Linked DNA regions of Homo sapiens: all the other regions are linked to region 1. Evidence: fine-mapped expression QTL. A gene starts in region 1. Each other region holds a variant in brackets. All regions are shown on one strand. Distances are from middle to middle.

Region 1 (8,000 bases):
GAACTTATTATTATCCAAAACTATCTATCATGCTTATATGAGGTAAATATTTTTCTTGAAATACACAAAATGTTTACGGACACAAAGAAGGTTTGAGAAAATGCCCCAAGATTGATCAACACATGAAATAAATTTTTTTATCATGAACTCATTCATATATGCTTAGAAATAAAGGCCGTTCTTCCTCATTGTAAAGGAAATGCAGAAATCTTCCCCAAATGATTCAGATACTTGCTTCAATTCTACCATTGACCATAACTAGTCTCATATGCCACATGATAATATATGTCCAAACTCCAGTTTGTCATTTTGAAGAAAACTAGAGCATTTCTCACTACTGAAAAGAAAAGCTATCAGTGAAAATGAAGTATTAAGGTATTTAATGTATCCTTAATATAACTAAGAAAGGATTTAGAATATTAGGATTTATTCAGCAAATGTCAGGTTGGAATAATAAAACTTAATTTCTTAAACTTTTGAACTTTAGTTTTTGCTTTTGTTATTACAGAATAGTACCTAACAAGTCACTCTTCTATGGTAGTCTCTTGAGATGTGTTACTTTTTAACTAAAAAAAATTAAATTCCATATAAGCTACATATAACTTTAGTGACTACAGGATATGACAATGAGCATCCAACCACTTCCAAATTTACACATATTCAGTAATAAATTTAAAATGGGCTTCTTGCAGAAATAGGATCTTTTTCCATGTCTCATCCTATCAAAGAAAGTGTTGGCCTAAATCTATTTGGAAGCATTTTGGTACTTGAATTTGATATGCTCTTTGCGTAATAAAGGGATTATGCTGCCCACTCCCTAGTGCCGGAAAGAGCAGTTTGGGATGTCTGTTCAGCGATGTGCTGTCAACACAAACCCAGTTCCACACTCTTTAGAGGGAGTACTAGGTTCAGATGCTCACAAGGCACTATTGAATTCACAATAACAAAACAGCATCTAAATACTTTACATGAGCATATCAGACGTACTAGATCATCTCAATCAGTACCTGACGTTGTCAGGCTTTGAAAAGATTTTTTAAAGTTCTGAAAGTAAGCCAAGGATGTCATTTAGACAAAATATATATTCATTTAATGTAGTTTCATGTTGTCACAGGGTCACTTCAGATTCTTTTGGAATCTGAACTATGTGATTAGATTCAGAACATAATAGACTAGATCACTTTTAGATAAGCTAATTCTAACTAAACCCTTTAAAACAGATATATCAAATACATCTGTTTTAGGTTGCTTTAATGAAATACATATAAGTAGCAATGTGGCCAAAAGGTTGGAAACTAAGGTGAGAGATAAAAAATAGAAAGTCAAATGCTAAACTATTCACTATCTTGAAAGAAAATAATTGGAAAAGGCTAAAAGCATCAGTCCAATGGTTCTTTTTCCACATTTCTCATCTTGTAAGTTTTCTGTGATCCTTCAGTTTTGTTAGTGTTCCTGAGATACTGTGTATGTGCTGGAGAAAATATGTTATACAGCTTTTCTTTTAAATTAGGAAACAACCAAAAACCCTCTAGAGGTTAAAAAACCCTTCATAGTGTTATATATGTTTCTTTGTCATGGGTTCAACAAGAGATTTTTACAAAATGATATGGAACTACTACAGTTAATGAAATAAAAGATATAATCCTTCAATCTACAAACTCTATGTAGCTTCTAAAAGGCTTAAAAAACATAAGTTGCTCTACGTAGATGATAAATCTAAATAAAGACTATTAGAAACACGAAGACAAATAATTTTGAGACTCGCTGCTAAGAAATCCTTCGGCAAATATCGCTAGAAAATAAAACCACATGGGTGATTTTAGAAATTTAAAATTTCTTCCTGTACCATATTAATTGTAAAGATACTATTCCAGTGGTTGAAATCTATTTATGACTCAGTTCTCTGGAGTAAGCCAAAAGACCACAGTTATCATGCTAACATTAAGAAGGACAAAAAATGTCTGTGGCCAAACCGGACATGTCAACAGACTCACCTTGGGAGGCCTGGCTACTTGGTGTGTGTGATTAACTATACATGCCTGACTCACACACACAATTGGCAATAGTGCCAATTCCTGCAACCTGCTTAGAGAGCAATTTGTCAATTTCTACCAAAATTAAAGCTGTACATACCTCTTGACCCTGCTAGGACTTTGACATACAGACATATCCATAAAGGTACCAAGGGACAGACAGACAGAGAAGCTACATCTAAACTCACAGACATACTCTGTCACATGTGTAACAGCAAAACAAAACAAACACAAAACAGCTTAAGTGTCCATCAGTGCAACACTGGTTAAATAAATCATGATCTAGTCATACAGTGGAATATTATGAAGCTGGTAAAAAGAGTGAGGTAAATCTACAAGTGCCAATTTGAAATGTATTCAAAAATACATTTTGTGAGTAAATCAGAGTGGAAATCTGTGAGTTCTTAACTTTGCAAATAAAACAAGATCTATTAGCATGTGTGTTTTTGTGTAAGCATTTTTTTTAACCTGGAAAATTCTTAAGAAACTGTTAACATGGTCCCTCTGTCGAAAGAGATTTGTGATGAGGGTTTGGAGAGACCTTTTTAATGATGTCTCAACATTTTAAAAGAGCCCCTTTCTCCTGCTGACAATCTGATGAAATCCAGTGGTGGGCTCTGAGCACCCAACAGCCTCTATCCCTTAGACTAAGCCATCAGGTAGTAGCTAGTGCTGCCTTTAGGTCCGATAACTGCATAAGTAATAGAAGTGCCCATCCTAGAGCCTCAGGTCACTCACCCATCTTCAAAAGGTCACCTCCCCCACAGCGTTTCCTGAAGCTCCTACCCCTGGAGAAGGAATTTGCCACTCCTGCCTCCGTTTTATTGGGGACATTTTCTGCAACGCTCTAAGTGCAGACAATTGGTTTATCTGTTTCACTCTGTTAGACCAGAAGGCTTCTCAACCCCCAGAACTCTTAAATAGTTATCCAACGACTACCAGATACAGTCATTCGGCTATTTGGTTCTAAACAAAATCTACGGAAAGGTCCAAGTGAAACGGCACACATTCCAAATTGTCCTGATTTTAGGCAGCTGCCCGATCTTGTGCCAGATGATACAGATACTTTTTGAGTAGGTTTCCCTGGACTGCAGTTGCCCGTCCAGGAGCAAGAATTCGGTTGGACAAACAAGCAAACAAAATAGATAAAGCAGGCGCTGTGTGGGCGCGTCATTAGTAGGGTCACCTCTTGGATTGTGCACACACCCCAAAGCTTGCAACCCCCACGCTTTCTCCAAACCAAGGGCTGCCCCCAAGGAAACCTCCAGCCGACCCCCGCCCGCACGTCGGAACCCCTCCAGACCCGCGAGCCCCCAGAGTACCTTAAGCGATTCCTTGAAATCCTCCGTGTCGTCCGGCACATCCTCATAGACAACGCCCTGGGGCTCCTTCTTTTCTCCAGGGCGCCACATCTTCCTCAGGCTGCGCTTCATTGACCCCACCCCGGACGCCACCTGGTGCAGCTGCTCACCACGCGCGCGGGCACCTGGGGCGAGAGAGCGCTGTCAGCCTGCCAGGCGCTGGGGTCCGCGCGAGCCCGAGCTCTCCCGCGCTGCAGCTCACAGGCAGCGAAAAAGTCGCTCTGCGGAAGCCCTGGAGAACTTCTGGAAGGAGTTCTCAGGCCCGCGCTACTTTTGTAGTGCAGGAAGCAGGCGGGGCGCGGAGAGGAGGTAGAAACGCGGAGCTCCTTCGCAAAGAGGGCGGCGGCGCCGCGTCTGCCTTGGACTCGCCCCTTCAGGGACAAAGTGACTCGCCCGTCCCGCTGTCCTGCAGCTGCAGCAGCGCACTGACGGAGTCAAGCGTGTCAGGTCGGGGTGGATTGCAGAGAATTTGTTATAATAAACTAAGAGGCCCCTTGCCCTGCCCCCCAACCTTGCATGTGAGTGTGTGTGTGTGTGTGTGTGTGTGTGTGTGTGTGTGTGTGTGTGTGTTGGGTGGAGGGTGGGGGGTGTAAAGAGAGAGGAAGAGGGAATGACTGGGTATATTGGAAAGATTTTTAGTTTTCAGGAGTTTTTTCTAACTAAAATCCTACAGACCTGTGTTTCCCACCACGTGCACCTTCTTCTGGCGGCCTCTTTGATTTGGAAATAACGTTTTTAACAAAACTTCTCATTCCAAACGTTTGGGACAATAGCTACATCCTAGCACTGGTTTGAGGGACTAGATTAAGTCCCTGTGAATATCAGGTCTCATTTCCTGTGGATAATAACAGTGATCCCCCTCACACTTTGGTGTTTAAGGGTGGTTAATAAAAAGGTGAGGTTAAACGTAAGCCACTGCTGACTGGTGCAAGTTTGTTTGCCCCCAGCTTCATTTGAGAGACTTATATTTATAGGACTGCTCTTCATTAAGTGTCAATCGAAGTGTCTCAATCGAAGAGGCTGGTTCTACTTTTACGTACAGACAAGGGAACTGTCTGGTACAGACAAGGGAACTGTTGCCGTAAGTTCAGGTTTACAAGGCTAGAACGCAAGAAACCTTTCTAAGGCTGATTATACCTTGCACAGGACAGAATGTAGCTTTGACAGTCTTTTGCTTTGACAGACGGTGCTTCCTGAAGGCCCTGGATTGTCGTATTCACCTGCTCATCTCCAGCACTTAACTCAAGACCCCCGTGGATCCAGGAACTGGCATAGGTGCACTCAGCAACGGTTTGTGGACTCTCTGACCTAGGGGCTGTGGTGGGCTGAGCTTAGGGCTAGGCAGAGTGGACATGATGATATTGAGGAACCATGAAAGGTCCCCCTAAATCTTCCAATGGATATGGCAGGTTGCCATCAATTCCACCCCTGGAGTGGAATTCCTTGGAAGGATAATATTGAACTTAACCACATCATGAGTCCATGAGTATGGCTTGCTGGAGGATACAGGTGTTCAACTTCACCTTTGCACTCTTTTCTCATCAGCATCTGTGTTCAGGGTATGCAAGATAAGAATCAGTTGCACAACTTGCTATGATTTAGTTGAAGGAGGTAATGCATTTGGAGAAACCAATAAAGAAAAGAATCCCAGGGTTGGGTAAAAAGAATAACTCTCATTGAGCCATTGCTGCCTACCTGATATTTTCCATATACCAGTTTAATGTTTTAAAATGGAAATGCCTCATAGGAATATTAAGACTTTTTATTTTTTATCATTGATTATTTTGATCGATTGCTTTTCTCACAACACTTAGCTGGAAAGGGTCACTAAGGCAAAAACTGAATAAAGAGGATGTTCGAAGTGATCATTTTGGAAGCTGGGGCAGTGGGCATGTCATGGCAGCAAGCATCAGATGGCCCTGTTGGCCCCGAGAGACAGGGGGTGACAGGGGTGGGGGGGGGGGCAGCGTGGGCCAGTGCAGGGAACTCCAGCAATGGATGGTTGAGGGGAATTCTGGGAGAAGGGTGGCTCCAGGCCAACAGCACCCCTCCTTTGTAATATCCCCTGGAGTCTGCATTCTTGCTTCTCTACCCCACTGACATTCTCCAAAGCATGTATTCTTTTTAATTTGTCTTCTCTGTCTTTAACACTGAAAAATACAGTTGGTTAATATTATAGATATGATTTTTTTCCTGCTTTCTGCTTATAAAAGCAAATAGATTAAAAGATAGTTTAATTTTTAAAAAATATTATGGGGGTCTTGTTCCTTTTAGGCATTTTTCAGGCAGTGTCTTCCTAAGACCTCTCAGGAATTCCCATGACTGTTTCTTCTTAATCATTAAATTATTTCCTACCCATCAAAAATATCTTTTTCATAGGCAGGCAGGGCAACTTCCTCTAATTGCAAGATTAATTGCAAATCTTGGTCTTAAAATGCAAAATGTAAACAGGAACAAGATGGTATCTAGCTATTTACAATCAAGATCTTATTTCATTTGAAGTTTATTGATGAATAGCAGTAATGTGCAAGCTTTTTATATCAGTTATACTCTTAAAATGATACTTATTAGAGAAAAGAAACCTTCCTAGAAATTTTCTGAAGGTAATTTTTATTATCAAATTACAATTTGACATTACACAGGACCTTATTCAAGAAAATGAAAAGTAATAATAATAAATAATTTTATTTAAATTATCAAGGAAAATATAGTTATATGCACATATTGCTCAATAACATTTTATGAAAAAAATCTAAATTACCAAAATTCTCCTTAATTATTTTGTTCCTTAAATTTAAAAATGTTTTGTTTATAAATTAATTATAAAAATATTTATTTTTAAAGTCACTAATCCAGATATGTTATTAATGAAAAGGGGCCCAATATACATGCTAAGGAAAATAGCATCTTTTATGAAACAAAACATAAAATGCACCCATGGAAAGTGCACAGTTTGATGACTTGTAGTAAATTTATACAAGTATACAACTATCTCCACAATCCAGTTTTAGAATATCTCCATCAATCCAAAAAGTTTCCTTAGACCCAGATGCAGTAAATCCCTCCCCAACCCAGACCCCTAAGCAACCTTCAATCTGTCTTTGGAGCACACTTTCTATCTCTATAGTTTAGCCTTCTCTAGAAATTTCAGATACATGGAGTCATACACTATGTAATATTTAGTATCTGGCTTCTTTTGCTTAGTATAATACACTTGAGATTAACCCACATTGTACTATATATCAGTAGTTTCTTCCTTTTTATTGATCAATAGTATTCCATTGTATGGGTATACCATGTTTTCTTTACCTATTTATCAGTTGGTAGACATTTGAATTATTTCCAGTTTGGGTCTATTATAAATAATGCTGCTCTGAACATTTTCATACAAATCTGTGGACATACATTTTTATTTCTCTTGTTTAGAGAGATACCTAGTAGTGGATTTGCTGAGTAATGTGATAAGTATGTGTTTAGCTTTGTATGAAAATGCCTAATTACCTTCCAAAGTGGATGTACCATTTTATATGGCCTCCAGCAGTGTATGAGGATTCTACTTACTCCATAGCCTCACAAAACTTAGTATTGTCAATCTTTTTTTATTATGATCATTCTAATGGTATATACCATTGAGTCTCTAATTAGTATTTCCCTAATGGCTAATGATATTGTCCATATTAGCATGTCTTATTATTCACTCATATATTTTCTTGATGAAATATTTATTAAATTCTTTTGCCTCTTTTTAAATTGCGTTGTCTTCTTACTATTAAATTGTAAGAGTTCTTTATTCTAAATATAACTCTTTAAACAGATAAATAATTTGCAAAGTTTTTTCAGAAGCTGTTATTTCTCTTTATTTTCTTAATAGTGCCTTTTGAAAAGCAAAACTTTTAATTTTGATAAAAGTCTAATTTGTTAATTTCCTATATTGTGTTTTGGGTGCCATAGAAACTTTTGCCAATTCAAAATTAAAAAGCTTCTCTTCAGTATTTTCTTCTAGAAGTGTCAGCTCTTAACTAGATCAATTTTGAGTTAATTTTTTGTTCGGGTTGTGGGGTAGAGGTCTAAGTTCATTTTTATTGCATATGGATATACAACTGTTACTAGTTGTTAAAAAAACTATACATCCCTCATAGAACTGCCTTCAAACCATTGTCAAAAATCAATTGACTACAAATGTAAGAGTTTGTTTCTAGACCCCTATCTTCTTCCATTGATTAATATCTCTATATTTAAGCCAATACCACATGGTCTTGACTTATATATTCAGGTTATTAATCTCTTGTCAGATGGGTAGTATGATGGTTAATATTAGGTGTCAACTTGACTAGATGGAAGGATGCCTTGATGGCTGATGAAGCATTGTTTCTGGGTATGCCTGTTGCATTTAGTCTATAGATTGATTTGGTGGGAAGGGCCATGTTTAAAATATTGAGTCTTCTGATCCATAAACATGGTATATTTTCAGTTTATATATATCTGTCTTGATTCTCTCAGCAGTGCTTTGTAGTTTTCTATGTACAGTTCATGCATATTTTTGGTTAAATGTATTCCTAAGGATTTTATTAATTTTAAGCTATTTTAAATGAAATGATTTTCTTAA
Region 2 (8,126 bases), 220 kb before region 1:
ATATGAATTAAAGTTGTCTACATAGAATAGGTGGGTAGACATGAGTTACTAGAATCAACAGAAATGGGAAATGTGGGGAATAACCATTCTGGAGAATATAAAAAGAGTCTAAGTAGGGGTAAGGAAATGTATTTCAAAACAGTGTTAAGGGCTTTGATGACATTGACTGATGAGCACTTATACCCATTAACAAATGTGAAGTTATCTAGCACAGTGATTCACATGGAGTGGTTTTCAGCTAGAAATAGCTGAATCTTAACAAATTAACCTGTTTATATTTTCAATAGCAAGAACTTGCAAGAATGAACTATTTATGGGACCATTAAGTTTTGATGAGGTAGAGATGCAATTTAGGAACTTGGAGTTCAGGGGAAATACTCTTGGAGATTTAGATGAAGATTCTACAGTTGGGGACCCATGGTATGCAGGAGGGAGGCAAAATGAAGCCATACTTTTAACTCTTTGGGGTAGGTGGAGAGGGAAGGATTTGCAAAGTTGCAGTATCACTATATTGCAGAAATGTTGGGGGTGCCACTGACAGAATATAATATGGAGTGATCTATATATTTCTCAGATCTTTCAGTTGTGCGTTATCTATGTAAAATGGACTTAACGACAAAATACATGAATGCATGCATACACACAGACATACATGCAAACTATTTTTCAAAACTTAGGCTCTCTGGAGATATTAGCAGATTTCTTTCAACATATTCCATAGGCATTTGGAACACAGCAAATTTAGGGTATTTTAAATCAATAATAAACTTATGATTTCTTCATTTTTGCTATAGGGAACTCATTAACATGTAGTTTAACAGGGAGAAAAAGCAGAGTATGTCAGATTGCACCCCCATACCCTTATATTCTCATTTTAAACATTAATATCCCCCATATTTTACAGATAAAGATATTGGAGTTAAGAGAGATGAAGTTCCTTGCTGAAGAATACAAAGATAATTGAAGAGGAACTCAGATGTCTAGAATGAGAGTCTAGTGCTCTTGTTGCTATATCATGTCCATTATGGTTAATTTTATGTCTCACCTTGGCTAGGCCATTGTACCCAGATAGTTGCACAAACAGTATTCTAGATTTTTCTGTGGAGTTTTTTTTTTTTTTTGTATGAGATATAAATTTAAATCACTAGACTTGGAGTAAAGAAGATTGCCTGCCGTAATATGAGTGGGTCTCATCCAATCAGATGAAGGCCGTAATAGAAAATGACTCACCTTCTAGGAAGAAGAGGGCATTTTGCCAGCAGACTGCTTTCAGACTAGAACGCAGCTCTTCTCTGGTCTCCATCCTGCCAGGCTACCCTCCAGAGTTTAGACTTGCCATCTTCCACAATCGTGTGAGCCAATTCCTTAAAATAAGTCTCTCTCTGTCCTCTCCTCTCTGACACACACACACACACACACACACCCCTTATTCATTGTGTTTCTCTAGAGTATCCTTACTAATACAATGTTCTTGGACAATGCATGTGAAATACTAGAGAATTTAATAAGCAGGCTAAGCTACAATGCCAGGCACTCTGTGCTTAACTCCAGAGTATTTAAAGTGATAGTAAATCTTCTAGTTCTTGATATTTAGCATTCGTTTTAGAAGTCATAGAAAAATAAGCTTGACCAGGGAGGAAAATGTTACAAGTAACTTTTATACTTACTTGTGACACAAAACACATTAACTTTTTATATTTAATTCTAATGTTTATACTACTTGGTTGAAAAATACTAATTTTAATTATAGTATTTTTGCTTTGATAATCATTGAACCTTTCTTTTAATTGAAATATAATTCTCATACCACAAAGTTCATACTTTAAAGATGTGCAGTTAAGTGATTTCTAAGTATATTCAAAAAGGTTGTGCAACCATCACCACTCTGTAATTCCTAAACATTTGTATCATCCCCAAACAAAACCCCATAACCATTAGCAGTCATTTCCCGTTTCTCCCTCTTCCAGATCCCCTGGCAACCACTAGTTTATCTGTCTTTGTAGATTCATCTGTTCTGGACATACTACATATATAATAATATTCCATTGAAAAACTTTCTATATAATAAGCCACAGACTTTTAATGCCTTGTTTCTTTTACTAAGCATAATGTTTTTTAAGGTTCATTCATATTTTAGCTTGCTTTTGTATTTCAATTTTATGTGACTGAATTAATATTTCATTATATATAATTATATATAACATACATATAATGATATATATATATACACACACCAAATTGTAATTATTTATTTATCAATTTATGGGCACCTGGGATATGTCCAATCTTTGGCTATTATGAATAATGCTGCTATGAATATTCATGTACAAGTTTATTGTGAACATATGTTTTCAACTGTCTTGGGTATATACCTAATAGTGGAAATGCTGGGTCGTATAGTAACTCTATGGTTAACTATTTGATAATCTATCAGACTATTTTCCAAAGTGGCTATACCATTTTACATTCTCAGCAGCAATGTAGTCTCTCCACATCCTTACCAATACTTGTTATTGTTCTTTGTTTTGATTATAATCATCGTACTGGGTGTGAAAGTTATATCTTATAGTGGTTTTGATTTGCATTTCCCTAACAGCTAATGAAGTTCAGCATCTTTCAATGTACTTGTTGTATATTTATCTATCTTCTTTGCAGAAAAGTCTATTTAGATATTTTTCATTTTTAAATTAAATTTTTTGTCCTGTTGTTGTTGAGTTATAAATGTCATTTATTATTTGTTGAATGTTTCCTCCAAATTGTATATGTCACAAACTTAATCCACAATGTGGCAGTATTGAAAGGGCCTTTAAGAGGTAATTGGATCTTGAAAGCACAGCTTTCATGAATGGATTAATCTATTCATGGATTAATAGATGAATGGGATAATGGGTTAATGGGCATGGAACTGGTGGCTTTGTAAGAAGAGGAAGAGAGACCTGAGCAAGGTTCAGCCCCATCACTATGTGATTCCAGGCCTCAAGATTCTTCAGAGTTCCCATTAGCAAGAAGGCTCTCACCAGATGTGGCCCCTTGACTCTGGACATCTCAGCCTTCATAACTATAAGAAATAAATTCCTTTTCTTCACAAATTACCCAGTTTCAGGTATTCTGTAATGAGCAGCAGAAAATGCACTAAAATACTCCCTCAGTTTTTGTTAATATAAGGATGTCTTAATTTCTTACTTAATTTTGAAGGATAGTGTGCTGAAATAGGATTATTGGTTGAAAATTTTTTTCTCTCAGCACTTTGAATATATTGCCCCACTGCCTTCTGGCCTTTAAAGTTTCTGATGGGAAATATGCAGGTGGTTTTATTGAGGATCCTTTGTAAATGATGAGATCCTTCTGTCTTGCTGCTTTCAGGATTCTCTCGTCTTTCTCTCAAAAGTTGTATTATTATGTGTCTTGGTGTGGATCTCTTTTAGTTCATCTTACTTGGAGTTTGTTGAGTTTTTTAGATGTTTGTATTCATTTATTTCATCCCATATGGGAACTTTTCAGCCATTATTTCTATAAATATTCTCTCTTTCCCATTCTCCATTCTCCTTATAGAAATCCCAGAATACATGTATTCTGTTTGATGTTGTCCCCCAGATCCCTTAGGCTCTGCTCACTTTTCTTTAAGCATTCTTTTTTCTTTTTCTTTTTAAGAGACAGTTTCACTCCGCCTCCTAGGCTGGAGTGCTGTGGCATGATTATACCTTACAACAGCCTCAAACTCCTGGGATCAAGCAGTTCTCCCACTTCAGCCTCCCTAGTAGCTAGGACTACAGGCATGTGCCACCATGTTCAGCTAATTTTTAAAATTATCTATAGAGGTAGGGTCTCACTAAGCTGCTCAGGCTGATCTCAAACTCCTGATCTCAAGGGCTCTTCCTGTTTTGAAGTGCTGGGATTACAGACATGAGCCACTGTGCCCTGTTTAAACTTTTTTTCTTTTGTTCCTCAGATGAAGTTGATTTCCATTGTCCTATCTTCACTGATTTTTTTTTCTGCCTGCTCAAATCTGCCTTTGAATCCCTCTAGTGA[AT/A]TTTTTTTTTTTACTTTAGTTATTATACCTTTTAGCTCCAGAATTTCTCTTTGTTTTCTTTTTAGGTTTTCTATCTCATTGTTGGTATTGCGATTTCCCCATAAGAAATGTATTACTTGTATTACTTAGGTTTTTTGTTTGCCATGTTTTCATTTTCTTCCATAAAGGTATTTTCTAATTTTCTTTGTGATTTCTTTACTGACCCATGGGTTTTTAAATGATTGTGTTGTTTAATTTCCATAAATTTGTGAATTCCCCAAATGTATTTCTCTTACTGGATAAGTATTTTGTATTATTTCAGTCCTTTTAAATTTACTGAGATTTGTTTTATGGCCTAGAATAGGGCCTATCCTAGGGAATGTTCTGTGTATACTTGAGAAAAATGTATATCCTACTGCTGTGGGGTAGAGTGTTCCTCCAATGCCTGAAAGGTCTGCTTAATTTATGGCTTCCACTGTGATTGTAAGCTGTCAGTTTTCAAGGCTACTATGGAGCTGGAAGAGAAGAAGGGAATGGGAGTAGGACAAGTTAAAACACAGCAAAGCTTACTGTTCTTACTGATATTCAGCTGTTTTTCTTCAAAAAAAAAATACCCAGATTGCTGCAGAACTTTGGCTAATTTCTAGCATTCTGAAAATGTTGATTCTGATAATTTTGTGAGTTTTCTCATTGCTTTCATGGGGAAGATTATTTTCGCAAGTCTGTCATTTTTGCGGACATCACCTTGTCTTCCACTGAATCTTGATGTATATTTTATATATCATGAGGTCCAATTAAAAGAGCAGTAAATTAAGTACCAGTTCTCTACGTGTAGGAAGGAGAATGTTAAGAAGTTTCACATATGTTAAGAAGCTCCATATTTAGTCTTTTCTGAAGTTTCCAATTTTCACTGGCACAAGAATGAGGCAGAGCAGAGGAACCACTGGGATTCAGCAAGATTAGCTTCACATTGCTTGTCTACCACATTCTCCTATGTAAACCACACTCCTGTGCATTTATATTCTTGTCTCTCCATCTTCCTCAATAGCTTGTTTCTGACTAGTCTTTCCATGACAGAGGCTGAGTCATTCCCTTGAGAGAATCTGGCCTAAGAACAGCTGTGTCTGAAAGGCTTTCCTTCTGTATGCAAAAGGAAAAGCTAATTAGAGGGAGGGGTGGGTTTAACTGTTTGTATCTAGGATGATGACAGGTTGATATCTTCTAATCCTTTTGTAAAACAGTTTTTAGATCAATAAAAATAAATAGAATGTATTTAGTTTCTTTATTCTTATCCTTTTAGTACTTTCACATAAAAAACACAAGCCTCCCACTACGACCAAGTAGAAGTAGTCAATTAGCATATATTCTGTCAATGAATTCTGTGATGAACCCAGTTAATTTAACTCTTTAAGCAAGGACATAGTGAGTACCTAGTATGGACTAGGCATATGATTAAATTTCTGCTGCCATTCTCCCAGAATTTCAGAACTCTCCCATTCCTCCTATATCCTGCTTGTGAACCGACTATAGAATTAGCTTTATTTTTACTGTCCCTTACTTCATTCATAAACACAGGACAAAGTGATCCAGATGTCATACAAAAATCAATATTGTTTCTCTCTCCCCTTCTTTCAAACTCTCACTCTCTTTTTCTCTCTTTCACACACAGTGAAATGAAAAAACTACCTAAAAATAAGAAATGTTAGGTGAAGATAGTTTTTTTTTAGCTCACACCACTTCCTAGTCTTAGATAGGGCAACTAGAGAATGGCCATCTGTTATTTCTTTCTCTTCTTCATTGGCCTTGCTCACCATACAGAGACATGTTCCAACACTACTTTGAGATATTAAGATTGTGGGGAAATTTTCCTTTTGAAAGAGTTTACCTCTATATCAAATATGTGCAAGATATAATTTTCAAAATTATTTTATCAATTTACTTTGTAGAGTTCAGAATATCCTGGTTTAGTATTGGATTGCCAAGATTGATATCCAAGGTTTGCCTATTTACTTATTTCATCTTTGTATATAAGCCAAAATATTCTATATGCAGCTTGATACTCCCAGTTATGTGGGGGAGGGTGGGAACACTGACAGCTGCCCAGAACTGCTGCAGGGGTGGACGACTGGATGCAGGTGCACAGACTATCTCAATTTGACAGGCTTTAAGGCTTACATTATCTCTAGTGATATCCAATATCCTGTACAATGAGGTCCATAAAAACAACAGAAGCAACACAGTTATACATATTCACCAGAGCATATACCACCACAATATTTACTCAGAGCTACACAAAGATAATGTGTAATTTTTGTGATCATTAAGTTTACAGTGTCACAGCAGGTTAGAAATTAAATCATGCATCTGACATTACGATACTTTGTTAACTGCGGTTTTCTTTTTTGTCTATACTCTGTATACTACATAAAGATTAGAAGTCTTAAGTTTTCACAACAATTTCTTGCCAGAGGAGTGCAAATAAGTGCTGGAGGAATTATTTCTCTGGTTATATTTTGAAGCTGTAGAATGTTAGTGTGTCTCTCATTTTGAGATTCTATTCTCAGTGTATGCTGATCTAGTCCTGTTCTGCAACTAACTAGATCATGGACAAGTCTCTTGACCTCTGTATCTCTATTTCCTTGAATTTAATTGAATTAGTATTTCCTGCCCTGGAAGTTATCACAAGGTGGTTTTGAGAATGAAGTGATAAGAATGCATGTGAAAGTAATTTGGAAATGACTATTAGAGGTAGATAAGAGTGAAAACTTACCTCTCCTCCTTGCTAGGTTCTAACCTACAGAGAGAAGTACTAGTCAAATGGGGGCTCAAATTATCATCTTTTTAGGCAAAGAAGTAGTCAATAGAATTCAGGGATCCGAGAAAAGTAGATTAGAGAATGTGACTTAGATCTAAGTCCAAAAGTAGGTCCCCTTCCCCCTAGTCCAGAGAAAAACCTCTGTATTTTCAAAGTAAGTCAAGGGTTCTGTGCAGCCTTCCAGTCCACCTATGGCAAGTTCAAGGACTGCTTCTGAAAGGCAGGAGGAACTGGAATGCAGAGAGAACAGCATACCTCCCCACTGAGCTGAGCAAGCCCTCCCAAGGTGGGTTAGTACTCAGAGACATGAAATGCAAAGGTGTGCACCAGGGAAGGAGAGGGATCTTACTGCATGAGCACAAGACCATCAAAAAGAATTATATTTTGTGCTACCAGTGAGCAGTACCCTGTAATCCCATCAAGTAGGGAAATAGGCTCTAGTGGAAGTGAAGCTCTTACCAAACAGATTAGCACCTCCCTTTCTTGTGAGGAGGAACAAGCAGAAGAAAGAGACTGGAGTGATGACTTCATTGCTTTCTGGAAGAGATTGGGAGCTTCCCCCTCTATGTATGAATGTGTGAAGAAGAGCAAGAGTCCTCCTCCCACACAACCATTGGAATGAGGTATGCAAATAAGTATGCAAATAGGGTTTGCTTTATAGGGTTTGTCTCAGTGAAAAGTCCAAAGAAATTGGTTATAGAAGGTGCCTTAAAGGTCACTTAAATATTCCCCTCATTTTATAGTAAGAAGGGGCCAAGGGCAGGTTGGTCACTAGCTCAGAAATTGACTAATTCTCAGAAAGAGGAATTGGTTCAGAAAATAGAACCCACACCAGGTGGGTAGGACTTTGGTGGGGGCCCTGGGCTGCCAGAAAGCAGCATAAGAACACTGGGTCCTCTGGGGACCCAAGGGAGTTTGCTCTTAAACAGGGGAGGGGAGAGCAGAATGGATGTAGAGGAGAGGAAGATTATAAATTTGTTTAATGTAATTTCCTATAAATATTAAATTACACCACTGATTTAGATAATCAAGATAATATCAGGTCATAAGCATGGTTTATGTTGTATAAATAAGGAATATGTATTTCTTTCTTCCTCCCCTTTGAAGGCTTGTTTTCTTCTTTGTAGCATTTACCCTCCACTTATTACGATGGGAACAGTACTAGGCTTCCATCTGGGAGCAGCCACTCTCATTCCACGTGGCAAAAGTGGGGCTGGCCCTCTCCCAAGGCTGTTGGGAAGTCTGCTGACTAAGACCTGGCCATTCAGAACACTTCATTTCTCTGACCACAGGAACTGGTTT
Region 3 (8,156 bases), 250 kb before region 1:
AAAACAGCATGGTACTGGTACCAAAACAGAGATATAGACCAATGGAACAGAACAGAGCCCTCAGAAATAATGCCGCATATCTACAACCATCTGATCTTTGACAACCCTGACAAAAACAAGCAATGGGGAAAGGATTCCCTATTTAATAAATGGTGCTGGGAAAACTGGCTAGCCATATGTAGAAAGCTGAAACTGGATCCCTTCCTTACACCTTATACAAAAATTAATTCAAGATGGATTAAAGACTTAAATGTTAGACCTAAAACCATAAAAACCCTAGAAACAAACCTAGGCAATACCATTCAGGACATAGGCATGGGCGAGGACTTCATGACTAAAATGCCAAAAGCAATGGCAACAAAAGCCAAAATTCACAAATGGGATCTAATTAAACTAAAGAGCTTCTGCACAGCAAAAGAAACTACCATCAGAGTGAACAGGCAACCTACAGAACGGGAGAAAATTTTTGCAATCTACTCATCTGACAAAGGTCTATTATCCAGAATCCACAATGAACTCAAACACATTTACAAGAAAAAAACAAACAACCCCATCAAAAAGTGGGTGAAGGATATGAACAGACACTTCTCAAAAGAAGACATTTATGCAGCCAAAAGACACATGAAAAAATGCTCATCATCACTGGCCATCAGAGAAATGCACATCAAAACCACAATGAGATACCATCTCACACCAGTTAGAATGGCGATCATTAAAAAGTCAGGAAACAACAGGTGCTGGAGAGGATGTGGAGAAATAGGAACACTTTTACACTGTTGGTGAGACTGTAAACTAGTTCAACCATTGTGGAAATCAGTGTGGCGATTCCTCAGGGATCTAGAAGTAGAAATACCATTTGACCCAGCCATCCATTATTGGGCGTATACCCAAAGGATTATAAATCATGCTGCTATAAAGACACATGCACACGTATGTTTATTGTGGCACTATTCACAATAGCAAAGACTTGGAACCAACCCAATGTCCAACAATGTTATACTGGATTAAGAAAATGTGGCACATATACACCATGGAATACTATGCAGCCATAAAAAAGGATGAGTTCATGTCCTTTGTAGGGACATGGATGAAGCTGCAAACCATCATTCTCAGCAAACTGTCTCAAGGAGAAAAAACCAAACACCACATGTTCTCACTCATAGATGGGAACTGAACAATGAGAACACATGGACACAGGTAGGGGAGCGTCACACACTGAGGCCTGTTGTGGGGTGGGAGGAGGGGGGAGGGATAGCATTAGGAGATATACCTAATGTTAAATGACGAGTTAATGGGTGCAGCACACCAACATGGCACATGTATACATATGTAACAAACCTGCACGTTGTGCACATGTACCCTAAAACTTAAAGTATAATTTAAAAAATATATTGTCTTTGTTTGTGTTTCCATCAATAATAGCATAATTTGGCTTGAGTGAAGAGTGAAGGTGGAGAAGGTGAGCAGAGCACGATACTGTTTTGCCTATTCTCATCTTAAAACACAGATTTGAATCATTACACGTGTGAAATGCAGGCTTTCCATGGGAAGAAGTAGAATGGTTCTTGTATTTCTGGAAAGACACAGCAAGTGAATCTGCTACTTTATAGCTTTTTTTTTTTTTTTTTTTTTTGAGACCGAGTCTCACCCTATCGTCCAGGCTGGAGAACAATGGGGCGATCTTGGCTCACTGCAAGCCCCTCCACCCAGGTTCAAACGATTCTCCTGCCTCAGCCTCTCGAGTGGCTGGGATTCAGGCACCCACCACCAGGCTCCACTCATTTTTGTATTTTTAGTAGAAATGTGGTTTCACCATATTGGCCAGGCTGGCCTCGAACTCCTGACCTCGTGATCCACCTGCCTCGGCCTCCCAAAGTGCTGGGATTACAAGCGTGAGCCACTGTGCCTGGCCTATATCTATCCTTAAACAAAGACAAGGCCTGGGTTTAACACTTGCATGAAATGGAGAGAATTATAATAATCTTCCTTATTTATCTCGCAGAGGACTTGTGAAGCTCAGATGAGATGCTCATCTCAAGCTCTTCGTTGAAGTAACCACCACTTCCAAAATCCCCTCAGAACTATAACACTGCCTGCAAATATAACGGATCCACAAGGCAACAGAGAGCTACACCTTTGGATCTCACAAATACAGTAGTGGGGAACCACCCAGAGCTGTCTTCTGGAAGAGCTGTGATGACAGTAGCGCTGTTGCAGTTACTACAAGGGACCTGAGAAGCCACAGATGGCCCACAGGCAGAAGTGGTGGCCGTGCAGGGGATGCCCCTGACACAGTGACACATGTGCAGAAATCCAGCTTATCGGCCCTCTTGGATTCCCTCTTGCACAGTATTTGCTCTAGAAAGACTCCTGCCACCAGCTGCTTTCTTGAAGGTTGTAGGGGAAAAGGTTCCCTGGACCCCCCCTACACACCATCACCATTGGTACAGGGGGATTGCTGACACCTCCCCAAGGATGTCCTGAAGCTGTGACCAGGTTCCATAGGGAGTCTGCACTCATGGCTTTCCTTCAGGCTGTTTCCTAAGGAATCTGGAATAAGTCAGAGCATTTTGATGTTAAGGAACATGAGGTCTTTGAGAAGGCGTACAACCCCGATCCTTGTATTCATGACCAGTGACCTAAACCACTCTGGCTTGAGGAAAGGACAGAAAGTAACCTCAGGGTTCATCTCTGCTCCCTAGTCGGGTGCCGTGCCTCACGCCTGCAATCCCAGCACTTTGGGAGGCCGAGGAAGGCAAATCACTTGAGTCCAGGAGTTTGAGACCAGCCTGAGCAATATAGTGAGAAGCTTGTCTCTACAAAAAATAAAAATAAACAACTAGCGTGGTGGCTCATGCCTGTTGTCCCAGCTACTCAGGAGGCTGAGGTGGGAGGATCGCTGGAGCCCAGGAAGTCAAGGATGCAGTGAGCCATAATAGTGCCACTGTACTCCAGCCTGGGCAACATAGGCTTAACCCTGTCTTAACAAAAAAAAAAAAAAAAAAAAAAAAAAAAAAAAAAAAAAAATCTGCAGCCTGAGGGTTTGCTGCAACTTATATATTTACCACGAGATGGCGCGCTAATGACGTCTTTTTATTACTGGGACCGGCTGCGTGGCGCTCAATTATTTTTCCTATTGAATCCTGTGGAAAGTGCTGGAGCTGCAGAGAGGTCCCCAAACAGCAGAAACAATGAGCGTGTAAGTACTTAATATAGTGGGGAAATACCCATTGACATATATTTACCGCCCTTGAATTTGGGTTTCAAAGGACTCATTTTTTTGAACTTGGTTACATCATGAAATTCACCTAACATAAAAATTAGCTCTTAAACACAGCTGATGTCAATGGGTAACTTTTCCCGGGGAAGCAGATGCTGCCCGGGTTGTGTGCAGAGCGCCATCCTGGAGGAGCCGGGCTGCAGGGAGCTCCTTGAGGAGCCACATCCAGACCTCTAGCACTGAGTTATCTTTGCCTCCGCTTACCTTCTTGTATCTGCAACAAACCTTTTTAACGTATTCACTCTTGCTTTTCTCAGTTTTTGATAATCAGCCACCTTGCTGTAGTAAAGGATCACACTGTGGAATGCTAAAAAAAAATTGCCATTTTAAAGTAGACAATTTACTGGCATTTAGCATATTCCCAATGTCACGAAATCACCATTTCTATAAGTTTCAAAATATTGTCACCATTCCAAACTAAAACCCCTTAGCTATTAAACAGTTTCTATGTTCCCTCCTTGAACTGGCAACAACTAATCTGTTTTTGTCCCAAAGGATTGATCTATTCTGAATATTTTATATAAATGGAATCATACAATGTGTGACCTTGTGTGTCTACCTGCTTTCACTTAGCATAATATTTTCAAGGTTCATCCATGTTGTAGCACGTGTCAGTGTTTCCTTCCTTTTTATGGTGAGAACTTCCAGTGCAGTGTTGAATAGTCATGGTGAAAACAGGCATCCTTGTCTTGTTCCTGACCTTATGGGGGAAAGCTTTCAGTCTTTCATATTGGGTTTGATGTTAGCATAAAGGCGTCTTATGGTGCTGGGGAAGTTGCCTTCTCCTGGTTTTCTGTTTTGTTTTGTTTTGTTTTTTATCGTGAAAGAGTGTGGGATTTTGTTAAATGCTTTTCTATGTCGATGAAGATGATTGTGTGAGTTTTCCCCTTCATTCTATAATGTGTATTACATTGACTGATTTTCTTATGCCACACCATTCTTGCATTTTGGGGCATATAGTACTTTTAATAACTTTTCTTTAAAAATGAAGATGTGTGTAAAGTATTGCACAAATATAGATGAGGTAGAATTAATTCTGCAGGTTAAGGCAGAGGGAGTGGGAAGGGTTTAGGGGAGGAAGACAAAGAGAAGTCAGCCAGTAAAAGACAGACCAGAAATGACCTTAAATGACAAGGGGATTTTTTTT[T/A]AAAAAGCCAAACTTTCAAGCAGCATCTTTCTCTAATCCAAGACAGATGAGAAGCCAGTTTCCAAAAATCCAGTTTCATTTTCCTTATCTTTAAAATGATTAGATTATTTTGATTTTTATTGTCATTGCTATAATTATAGTTTCTTATCCTGTTTATTTCATAAAATTTTCCTAGGTATTGCATAATTTGGGGCCATAATTTTACATTGTTGCACAACAGTCCCGGTTAGGTAATTACAGTAACCATATAGTCTTTGTTTTTTATTATCTTTAGAATGCCATGATAAACCAAAGTAGATTACTTATGAGATACCTTCTAGCTCTAAAGTTTTGTGGCTTTATGATTCTACGAAATCTGTACCACAGATTCTTCCCTAACTGCGCAAATTCTACATCACAAATCCTAGACGGTTAGAAAACCTCTCTCTGGCAATTTCATTAAATCTACTGTACTTCTTATATGTTTCAATTCACACATGTTTTCTCTTTTTCTGTCTTTGGTGAAGATGGAAAAAAGTGGATCACTTGTTGTTGGTGGGAAATTGTTTGTTCCTATAACTCACTTAAGCAAGTATCTATTAAGGTCAAACAAAAATGATCAGCTCTTCTAGGCAGACTGGGGCTTCTCCTCGGTCATGGCATTTCTTGGCTCCCCTACCTCAGTTTCTCCCAGGAGCAGTTCTTTGTTCATCTTCAGATTGGCCACTCCCTGCCTCCACTGCTGGGCTCTCCAGGAGTATGTAATTTTGTGAGCTAAAAATCCTAAGTGAGAATAGATCTATTTTCTTTTTAGTTCAGCACATATAAATTGGGTGTTTTTCAAATCATCTTCATTATAAAATAAAGAGGAAAGCAAACCCAAAAAGAAACAAATATGTTTATAGACAAGTGCCACTCCCTGGGTTGCATTGGTGGGCACCGCCAAGGAAGCAGACAGCCTTGACTCCTTTCTGCGCTTTCGTCCCGTGTCAAGCCCTCGGAAGGAGGTATAGCTCTATGGCTCATCCGTTGTTCCGAGTTAACTCCTAAAGTTCAGTTAGTCTCATCGGTGGGCACCATCTTCCCACCAGCTTCCTTTCACCCCAGCAGACAACTTTTGGGGAGGCTCAGGGAATGGTTTTGGGTTCAGATTCTTAGCTAGAGAGAAATAGATTTAAACTCTGATTCCACCAGTTATTCCCTGTGTGGCCCTTGGAAGGTTATTGAAGCTTTGAGAGCCTGTTTTCCCACCCATAAATCAAGACTATCACAGGCCTATTCATGGGCCTGATCAGAGGCATTAAAGGGCTGATATCTGTAAAGCGTATAGCATGGTGCTTAGCGTGTTTACAGTATGAATTTGCCTCTTCCAATTTTAAAGCTTTACATTTTAAAGTACTTTACTGAACTCAGTCAATACTCTTCTTTTTCTGTCTGAGGGCTCCCTAGCACCATCAGATTATGTACAGCAGAAATAGTAGTGTCAAATGGTAGTGACTAATTAGACATACTTTCTTAGTTGTCTGTGATGACTACATATCTCGGGTGGTTCCAGGGTATGGACTTTCCCAAATCAAATCACCCTCGTTTTACAAGTGAGAAGGAATTTAAACTAAAGAGTAGCAATAACTATTTTCTATCAAGAGAAATTTATTAAATATTTATTGATCATCTGCTTTGTACCAGACAGATGGAGGTTGTAATTTCATAAGACACAAAATGAAAAATGATGATTCCTGCTCTGAAGATATTTAGAATCCAATGAAAGAAAAAAGGCATGCTCACATGCGATCAAGGCAAGGGCCCTGTTTCCAAGCTTTGTGTCTCTGAGCTGCACAAACCCCTTCTCTCTTTAAGCTTTCAGTTATGATTTTACCCCCTCTGAAAGAATCTAAGTCCCCAGAGTAAGACCAAATTTGATAAGAATCTGTATGGGCCAATGGATGGTAGAGTTCCCAAATGAATGGCAAAGTTTCTCAATTCTGTACTGTTTCAAACTTGCCCTTTTAAATTTTAGTGATAAATCATGACTCATGATGACTTTGCTATTCACTGTCTGGCCCGAATTAGAAACCTTGTAGTCATTGTGGCTTTTACCCTGGCTTTCATCACACACATCCAGTCTATAACCCAGTTAATTTGATTCTAGCAGTCAAAAGTCTCTTGGCTCTATCCCTGGTATTCCCACCACCATCGTCTCAGCCTAGGCCTCAGTTTCTTTTGCCTGGACTGTCCAACTTGTGCTCTGTTCAATCTATTCTGCACATTGCCAGACAAAGTAGCTTTCTATGAGTCTGTGCTCAGGTGAATCACATATCGGGATATGGGACAGGTTTAAAGGTCCGAGTATAGAAACAACAACAGTATATTTTGAGAAGTCTTGGAGAAAGGTGAAAATTGTCACAGGGAGATGTCCTAACCTAAAAAGGGAAAACTCACTAGATTCTTGAAACGATAGGTCAAATTTCAGCATCTCCTAGGTTGTCAGGAGTTTGAAGAAAACCAGTAGTTGTTTATATATTATACTTTTTCCTGAAGATTCTTTTATTTGGATCTGATGTTTTTCCACTATAATTTTTACTCTGGAGCAAACCAAACTCAATCATAGAATCTTTTTAAAAGGTCTGAACAGATCTTGTGTTTGGGTTTTTTTTTCAGACAGTCTCTTTCTGTCGCCCAGGCTGGAGTGCAGTGGCACGATCTCGTCTCACTGCAAGCTCCGCCTCCTGGGTTCACGCCGTTCTCCTGCCTCAGTCTCCCGAGTAGCTGGGACTACAGGTGCCCGCCACCATGCCTGGCTAATTTTTGTGTATTTTTAGTAGAGACGGAGTTTCACCGTGTTAGCCAGGATGGTTTCGATCTCCTGACCTCATGATCCACCCACCTCGGCCTCCCAAAGTGCTGGGATTACAGGCTTGAGCCACCGTGCCTGGCCAGGTTTTTAAACACTAATGAAAGTTTGTTTTGAGACTAGAACAGTTTTAAGTACCATCATTTCTGTGCTTATTTGGTTTCCATATAATGTGGAGAAGTTGTTTTCTACCTTTGTAAGATTAAATACTTATCACAGAAATGAAGAGTCTGTGGCAAAGTTTATCATCAACAGTGAAATCACGTAGAGATATTACAGATCTTCTGCAGAACAAGTCAAAAGACACCTGAATGGCTTGAGTTTCATCTGTTAGGTTGGTGCAAAAGTAATTGAGGTTTTTGCCATTGAAAGTAATGGCAAAAACCTCAGTAACTTTTGCACCAAACTCATAAAACATTTAAGTGTAGGTTGACTTTGTTCATTTTCTCAAGCTTTCAGCCTCCCCGTATTGTGATGTACTAGCAATAAAGGGAGACATAATCAGTGCTATTCTGAAGACCCACAGTAAGCAGGGCATTCATTTAAAACTATGGTGCAGTTAAGGCCCCATCCAGCCCAGACCCCTCATTTTAGGTGAGAAATCATAGTTGGAAGAGGGAGAGACTGCCCAAGGCCACCCAACAAGTCAGGCTCTGAGAACGCCCCACTTGCAACCCCACGCGGGCTCCGGGGCACTTGGCCAGTGTGCATGGAAAACAGCTGCAGAGAAATAGCTGTCATGGTGCCAAATTCTTATCTGCTGGTGTCCTTCAGATTGGGTGGGCTGGATGCCAAGGGGAAACTCAGAGTCTGTGAATTCTAATCCTGGACCTGCTAGTAAACAGTTCTGGTCATAGGGTCTTAAATTTCCCTCCCTTTGTCACAGGCTGTTGTTAGTC
Region 4 (8,156 bases), 63 kb before region 1:
GAATGTGACTTTACTTGGAAATAGGGTCATTGCAGATGTAATTATTAACAGTTAAGATGAGGTCATTAAAGTGGTCTCTAATCCAATATGACTGCTCTTCTTATAAAAAGGGGAAATTGGGGTACAAAGGCAGACACACGCACAGGGACACACACACACACACACAAACACACACACACAGAATGCTGTGTAGATGAAGGCATGGATCCAGGTGATTCCTCTATAAACAAAGAAACGGCAAAGATCGCCAGCAAATCACAAGAAGCTAGGAACGAGGTTTGGAGCAGATTCTCTCTCACAGCTCTGAGAAGGAATCAAGCCTGCTGACATCTTGGCAAGCCTCTAGAACTCTGAGACAATAAATGTCTGTTATTTATTTTCTAGCCTTAGCAAACCAATATACAATCTTAGCCAATTAAAGGCTGACTAGAATAACCTTAGCTTAATCTAGGGCAATTTTCACACCATTCAGACAGCAGAAACTACATACACATATCCATGTACCCATCTGAACTTCTGTCATAATTTCTCAGTCTATCAATTTTAGCAGTGTGGCCAAATGTCAGTTTCTCTGGAATGCCAAAATAAGGGAATTTTGTTGTGGCTGTCCTATGAAAATGAAGCTCTGTCACAGAGAAGTGTGTGAGCCAAATCCAAATACTGAGTTTATTTTACTGTCCAAATAGAATATTTTCACCCCAGTGAAGCAATTGTAAGCATCTCATCCAAAGCATATTCACTATCCTTGAGTATTCTTGGTTGCTTATTGAATGAATAAGTGAATGAGGTGGATTTGGCTGACACTAACCTTTGGGATTACCTCACAGCTTGCCAGTGGCAAGCTTAGTAAGTACTGGGCCATAGTGTTTGAGGATAGGTCTCTAGAGTCATATGTCTCTAAGTTCAAATGCTAGCCTCCTGTATTAGTCTGTTTTCATGCTGTTGATGAAGCCATACCCAAGACTGGGTAATTTACAAAATAAAGGGTTTTAATTGGACTTACAGTTCCACTTCACTGGGGAAGCCTCACAATCATGGTGGAAGGCAAGAAGGAGCAAGTCACATCTTACGTGGATGGCAGCAGACAGAAAGTATGAGAGCCAAGCAAAATGGATTTCCCCTTATGAAACCATCAGATCTTGTGAGACTTATTCACTACCATGAGAACAGTATGTGGAAAACTGCCCCCATGATTCAACTATCTCCCACTGGGTCCCTTCCACCCACAACATGTGGGGATTCAAGATGAGATGTGGGTGGGGACACAGCCAAACCATATCACCTCCTTTCCTAGTTGCTTGGTTTGGAAGAGTTATGTAATCTTTTTGAGCTTCAATTTCCTCATCTATAAAATAGGGAAGATGCTAGTTACTCTCTTATAGGGTAGTTATGATTTATTTTATGTGAAATGTTTAGAATGGTCCATGCCATGATGTACTGCAGTTGGTTTGTACTGGCTCACAATGACCAATAGTACACCTTTTTTCTGATTCTGCCAATCTTCCCATCCTCACATCCAGTGACATCATATTGGTAGTTTGAAATTAATTGGCCATGGTGAGAATATTTACACTACAGATATTTGCAAATACTATACAACAGGGGCTAGCTTGCCAGCACACCGTTGGTTAGATGACATCCGTAAGTTCTGTATAAATCTTAACATTATTATTACTCAGTAGGTACTCCTGCTCCCTTATGGTTTTGAGAAGGCCTTCTTCTAGTTAAATAAATCATTTTGAATTAAAATAACACTGATGGGACTCTTAGCAATGTTTTACCTCTTGGGAATCACTGCCTACATTTGTGGTCTATAAATCTGAATCCTTAATTCACTCGGATTGATTTTTGGCTCCGTGAAAGCAGGAGCTTTTCTCACTGCTGTAGCCCCCACACATGGCACAGGCCTGGGACAGAGTAAGCACTCATAAGTATTTGTTAAGTGAAAAAATAAATGAATGAAAGTATCCCAAACACTTGCATTTTCAAAAGGTTTTGACATCCACTTCCTTTTCTTCTCAAAGCTACGCTTTGAGATGGATAGGTCCTATTTTACCTCTATTGCATCGATGAAGAAACTGCAATGCAAAGAAGTGTCTAATTAGTCATTTGCTTCCTTTCATCAAATATGTCCATTACACCAGTGTTTCTCAAAATGTGTTCCATAGATCATAAATCCTGAAGGATGTTAATAGTTATTATGTGCCAGGGGACCCGTGGATATATAAGTTTGGAAAATAGTGAAGTAAAAAAAAAAAAAATTGGTTTACTTACTACAAGTTTTCTCAGAGCCTTATTAAGCCAATGTGCATTGTGAACACAGGAGGTAGTGGAGATAGTTAAAGTATGCAGCATTTTCTATTTTTGACTATAGTTTGCTTGATTGATTTTTTTTTTTTTTTTTTAGACAGAATCTTGCTCTGTTGCCCAGGCTGGAGTGCAGTGGTCTGATCTCAGCTCACTGCAAGCTCCGCCTCCCGGGTTGACGCCATTCTCCTGCCTCGGCCTCCTGAGTAGCTGGGACTACAGTTGCCTGCTACCACGCCCGGCTAATTTTTTGTATTTTTAGTAGAGATGAGGTTTCACCGTGTTAGCCAGGATGGTCTCGATCTCCTGATCTTGTGATCCGCCCGCCTCAGCCTCCCAAAGTGCTGGGATTACAGGCGTGAGCCACTGCGCCGGCCACTTGATTGATTTTAAATGAAGCATCCAGCAGTGTTAGTGTGAAACTTCATTAGGTAGTACTTTTCAGACCTTAACTTGCATATGAATTGCCAAGGGAACTTACTAAAATGCAAATTCTGATTTAGGAGGGAAGAGTGCCTAGGGCAGGGACCTGAGATCCTACATTTCATCTTCTTTTTTCTTCTTTTATTTGAAACAAGGTCTCACTCTGTCATCCAGGCTGAGGTTCAGTGGCATGATCACAGCTCACTGGATCCTCAAACTCCGTGGATCAGATGATCATCCCACCTCAACCTCCCAGGTAGCTGGGACTACAGGTGCATGCCACCACACCTAGCTAATTTTTTAATTTTTTTGTGGAGACGGGGTCTTGCTTTGTTGCCCAGTCTGATCTTGAACTCCTCAACTCAAGGCAATCCACCTGCTTCGGCCTCCCAAAGCTCTGGGATTACAGGCGTGAACCACCATGACTGGCCAGAGATCTTGTATGTCTAACAGGCTCTCAGAGGGTGCCCATGCTGCTGGCCCACAGGCCACACCTTGAATAGCAAGGCACTAGAACATACAAGAGTCAAGAAGAAATGGCATCTTATTGAAAGACCAAATGAGAACACTAAAACACCCTATTGACCCTCAGGACCAGCTGTTAAAGAAGCATGTTGTTCAGAGGGGTGAGGAAATAAGGGACAAACCCCCATATGATGAGCAAGTAATGAAGGAACATAGAGCTAAACTAAATAGCTGGAGTAGGGCAGGTCTTTTCAGCTGAAGTCTAGGTGGTGAATTAATTAGTGAAGGGACACAGAGATGGCTAAAGGGACCCTTGATTGCTTTGTGGACCAAAATAGCTTCATTTTTGTCATTAAAACCTAGGTTCAAGGAGAAGAGGGCAAGGCCCACTATTGGTTCAGACTTAGTTATTGTTTTCCTTCTCTATCCACAAACTCAAGTTCCATGAGTTACTAATTTTTTAAAAAACTTTTTAATTATTCAAAATGGAATATGAATGTTAGAAATTGGAAGGGAAAAATGGGGACTGACATAAAAAGAGGTTAACCTGGGTCAGGTGAGGAAGTAACGCTATACAATGTATTCAGCTATTTAAAGGCTTCAGAAATGCTCGTATCTTTTACAGACTGATCTTCCTGACTTCATCTGGTCCCTGCTTTGACCTGGAAACTTAGCTTGGGTACCTGTGTTTCTCCAGCAGTGGCTGTTCTCTGCTGGTGCCTTGTCCTAGCAGACTCTTCTCTCCTAGTTCCTTGGCAACAGTGTTCTAATAACCTTTGCGGGTCACACAGTTCCTAAGTGTGGAGCTGGGATTAGGCTAATGGAGGTGTTATAAGACTCTCCAACAATATATTCATCAATGATTCACTTCTACTAATTATAACTCGACATATTTTGGTAACTTATTGAAAGCAAAAAGGTTAATAACTCATGACTTCCTTGTAGGTCAAATCTTTGTCCGTGTAAAGCAATAATTTTGCCTAATTTTATATTTTTTCCCTTGCATTCTTTGGGTTAAGTTCATTTTGTCACTCCTGCTCTTTATATTTGTATATTTATTTGTTCATCTTTCTATAATACTAGTTTAGATTATTCTCTAGCGATTACATTTTTTTAACCCAGAAAGGAAGTATTGTGTTTTTTACTGAAGTTTAGATTGGTTGTCAGAACTCATAGATTTTATTTTACTTGTGTAGTCTTGTTCATGTTTTTGCATTTTTGTAGGTCTTGATGTTTTCTTTTACTTAATTTTTTAAGCTTTTCTTATATTGCCTGTTTTGTTTCTTTTTATCTTTTTTCCCATGTACTAATACATACTTATTTTGTTTAAATTATATTCTTGATTTCTGAACAATTAAAAAAAGAAATTATCCACCCTATATTTTTTAGTTACAAGTATGTTATGAAGCAGTATCTTTAATTTGAATAGAATTGAGTCCTTGCTAAGAAAAATGAATGAGATAAGGTATTTCATCTTCTGTTCACCACTCGTACCTGTGAAAGCCAAACAGCCTGACTTTTTATAGCTGTCAGTGATCAATACTGAAGATATAATCTGTCATTACAAAGCAGCTGGCTTGGGCTTTGAAATGTAAACAGTGATAATTTATGAACGGGTTAGTCATTTTCCCATAAACATCTGCCCATGTACCCTGTGTTGTAATACATTCATGCTATTGC[G/A]TTCCTTGTCTGTTGTAACATTCGTTGATTAGTAAATATTTATAGATGTCTCTTGTAACAAAGTTTGGCTTTGGGCATGATCAGTTAAAAATAAATTTTAAAATATCATAAAACAACTATGTAGTGCCCAAGAAGACCTTAGAAAATATTCTTTTCTTCATGTTTCTGCCCTGTGTTGTATTGGTCTTGTCTTATCTGGTAGAATTGTCATACATGTCAAATGGGGAGCCTCATTATGATGAAAAATGAAACAAAGGGTGCTTTTTTTCCATTACCCTATACCCTGAAATAGCCAAAATATACACATATGGCACCAGAAGAACAGGGAGTTTGCCTTTTTCTAGCTTGTTTTAAAAGTGCAGTGCAGACAAGCTAAATCCAGCTGGGAATTCTGTGGGTCACACGCATTAGGCGGTGCAGAATTGAAACCTCTGTCTAGAGCAGACTCTCAGAAGATTTACATGCAAGGTTAAGCTAGCATATTTTTGTTTGTGTTGCCTTAAATCTTCTCCTTTGAAGGTTATGATAGCTGCTCAGTGACTAAGTGGTTATTTTTTTAAATCAGTGATACATTCGTTGTTTAGAAGGTATCTAATACTTCTTGTCTTAATAAAAATGTTAATAACAGATGAAACTCTGTATATTAGCATATCTCAAGTGTATAATCCTAGTTTGCTATTTACCCATCTGATTTGTGTAACATTATACTGTCATTTAAAATATACTTTTAAAGCCAGATTTTACATTTCAAGTTATCTTTAGTAATAACTCTCAGTACACTCACTTGTAAATAGTTGCTATAAACTATTCACTTGTAAATAGTTGCTTTTCAGACTGTAAAAATATATTTACTCATCCCTGTAAGCTTAAATTTTGCAGCTAATTACTATTTTCTGATACTTTATGTATATATACATATATTTTTTCTTGAAAATTATTTCCAAAAATAATTATTTAAATGCAAATCATAACAATAAATGAAAACATTTAAAACACGTACTTATTTTTGTAATTGCCATTCTAAATAATTTAATCAAAATACCCCCATTCTGATTTCTTTCCCATTCATCTTTTCCAAGAAGTTAAGAACCTGAATTTTAAAAAACACTGTACCCAAGCAGCAAAACTGTGCCAAACTTGAAAGGCCGACCCCACCTTTTGGCTCTATTGACCCTAATACTTTTCCAATTAAAGAAAAACTTAACAAAAAATAGAATGCAATGACTACTTTAAGCCACTTGGCACTTTGGGGCTTTATTCTGTTTTCAAACTGGCATATGATAATTGAATTTTCTTGGGGAAAACTCAAAGCAGCAATCCAGCTTTTTCGAGATACTCCACTTGATGAATCTCCACTCCCAAAGAACATCAGTGAAGCCCTCGTGGTATTATCTTTGTTAACAAAGAGTCACCACATTTTGATGATTCTCATTCTAAGTGCTAAGACTTAAAATGGCAATATAAAACATAGCTCAAAATGTTTTAGTAGAACTTAGCTTTATCTCTTGTTGACTTTTCTTTACAGTTAAAAAATATAGAAACCACTTTAAAAGCATGCAAAAAAAAGCATGTCCCATAAGCAATTTACTTCATATTGTGAAATTAACATGTTCCATATTTCAAAGGTTTGACAAAGCTCTGTGCGTTGTCATTGACTAATTGATGGAAACTTTCAAAATCTCTGATCCTCTGGCTGGTTATTTACTGACAGTGTCCTTTATGGGCTTGTGTCTTCTGCATTTCAAGGACTCATGTGGCAGCATAGAAACAAAGGATGTTAAAAGGTACAGTCAGATCCTGCACACTGGGTGTTAAGTTTACAGTAATTTGGATGAGTGAAGGGCCATTTCATTATCTTATCAACTGAGAAGGAATGGCAGAGCTGACCACTAGACTGGGATGCTATAGAGGTTTTAGGGGCACAACTTGGTTTTATACTTGGGAATGAGACAGGAGTTCAGCAGGACTTGTTTCACAAGATACGAATCACAAAGACCTTGCTGGTAAAACAGGATGCAATAAAGAAGCCAGCCAAAATCTGCCAAAACCAAGATGGCAACAAAAGTGACTTCTGGTCATCCTCACTGCTCATTATATGCTAATTATAATACATTAGCATACTAAAGGAAGAGCCCACTGGTGTCACAACAGTTTACAAATGCCATGGTAACATCTGGAAGTTAACCTATATGGTCTTTCAGTGGGAGGAGCCCTCAGTTCTGGGAATCCCCTGCTCCTTTCTCAGGAAACTCATGAATAATCCACCCCTTATTTATCATATGATCAAGAAATAACCATAAAAATAGCCAATCAGCAGCCCTTAGGGCTGCACTGCCTATAGAGTAACCACTCTTTTATTCCTTTACTTTTTAATAAACTTGCTTTCACTTTACTCTATTGGCTTGCTCTTGAATTTTTTCCTGCAGAAAGCCAAAAACCCACGTGGCCTCCTGGGGTGAGTCCCACTTTCAGCATTTGCCCTGCGACAAGTAAAAAGACTATTTGATTTAATAAATCCTCCATCTTATTTAAATTTGGGTGATTTTAGCATATTTATAATTGGGAAAGTTTTCAAAGTGATACAGGATGGTGATAAATGCACACATGTTTACAATTCAGTATTACAGCTCTCCAAGAGTTTTCTGGTTTCTTTTACCACACTCAGAATTTGAAAGGCAACCATCTGGGTCATGAAGATGCTTGCTGATCAACTGCTGGGGTAGAAGAGACTGCTGCAGTAGAAGAGACTTTAAGTCCCTTGCTGAAGACTGCAGTCTGGCTTACTGGTTTTAGTTATTTGCACTACCTAACCTGTATCTCAAGGACTGTGGACACCATACAACATCACAGAAAACTTGATGCTTGGAGGTTTATCGGATTATGAAAGATGTTGTGTCTGCCTGTGGTATCCTGAAAGTACAGATACCTGCAGTCTTGAACCTCAACTTCTGGATTATTTCGATTATGAATTCTTTAGACAGTTTTTTTTCTTTTTCTTTTTTATTTTTGAGACAGGGACTTGCTCTGTTGTCCAGGCTGGAGTGCAGTGGTGCAATAACGGCTCACTGAAGCCTTGACCCCGCTGAGTTCAAGTGATCCTCCTATTTCAGCCTGTTGAGTAGCTGGGACTACAGGTGCCTGCCACCATGACAGGCTATTTTTAAAATTTTTGTAGATATGGGGTCTCACTGTATTGCCCAGACTGGTCTCGAACCCCAGGACTCAAGCAATCCTCCCACCGTGGTCTCCCAAAGTGTTGGGATCATAGACATGAGCCACTT

Alleles and levels. Positions count from the first base shown, and alleles are read on the strand shown. Sizes are in standard deviations (SD) of each study's normalised expression. Not every link is listed here.
In carriers of allele A in region 2, the expression in prefrontal cortex of the gene that starts at base 3,641 in region 1 tends to be lower than with AT alone (small effect, 0.38 SD a copy in CommonMind).

The links. PIP is the estimated chance that this variant, and not a neighbour inherited with it, causes the effect.
Region 2: its variant is fine-mapped to the expression of TRPA1 in prefrontal cortex (CommonMind, PIP 0.95).
Region 3: its variant is fine-mapped to the expression of TRPA1 in monocytes after Pam3CSK4 (Quach 2016, PIP 0.95).
Region 4: its variant is fine-mapped to the expression of TRPA1 in monocytes after Pam3CSK4 (Quach 2016, PIP 0.95).

Annotation. Positions count from the first base shown.
Region 1 is chr8:72,071,944-72,079,943 of GRCh38, forward strand. TRPA1 (transient receptor potential cation channel subfamily A member 1) reads right to left here and starts at 3,641. Exons shown (of 27, transcript NM_007332.3): 1 at 3,356-3,641. The coding sequence starts at 3,466. RefSeq lists an enhancer at 3,446-4,017.
Region 2 is chr8:71,853,262-71,861,387 of GRCh38, forward strand. All of the region lies in intron 2 of MSC-AS1 (MSC antisense RNA 1), which reads left to right. Among named protein-coding and RNA genes, the nearest start is that of MSC, 13 kb to the left of the region's middle. The variant AT/A (reference allele first, on the strand shown) is at 4,030.
Region 3 is chr8:71,825,017-71,833,172 of GRCh38, forward strand. No RefSeq gene overlaps it. Among named protein-coding and RNA genes, the nearest start is that of MSC-AS1, 14 kb to the right of the region's middle. RefSeq lists enhancers at 2,291-2,350, 5,525-6,724, 6,301-6,480, 8,156. The variant T/A (reference allele first, on the strand shown) is at 4,428.
Region 4 is chr8:72,009,347-72,017,502 of GRCh38, forward strand. All of the region lies in intron 4 of MSC-AS1 (MSC antisense RNA 1), which reads left to right. Among named protein-coding and RNA genes, the nearest start is that of TRPA1, 62 kb to the right of the region's middle. The variant G/A (reference allele first, on the strand shown) is at 4,876.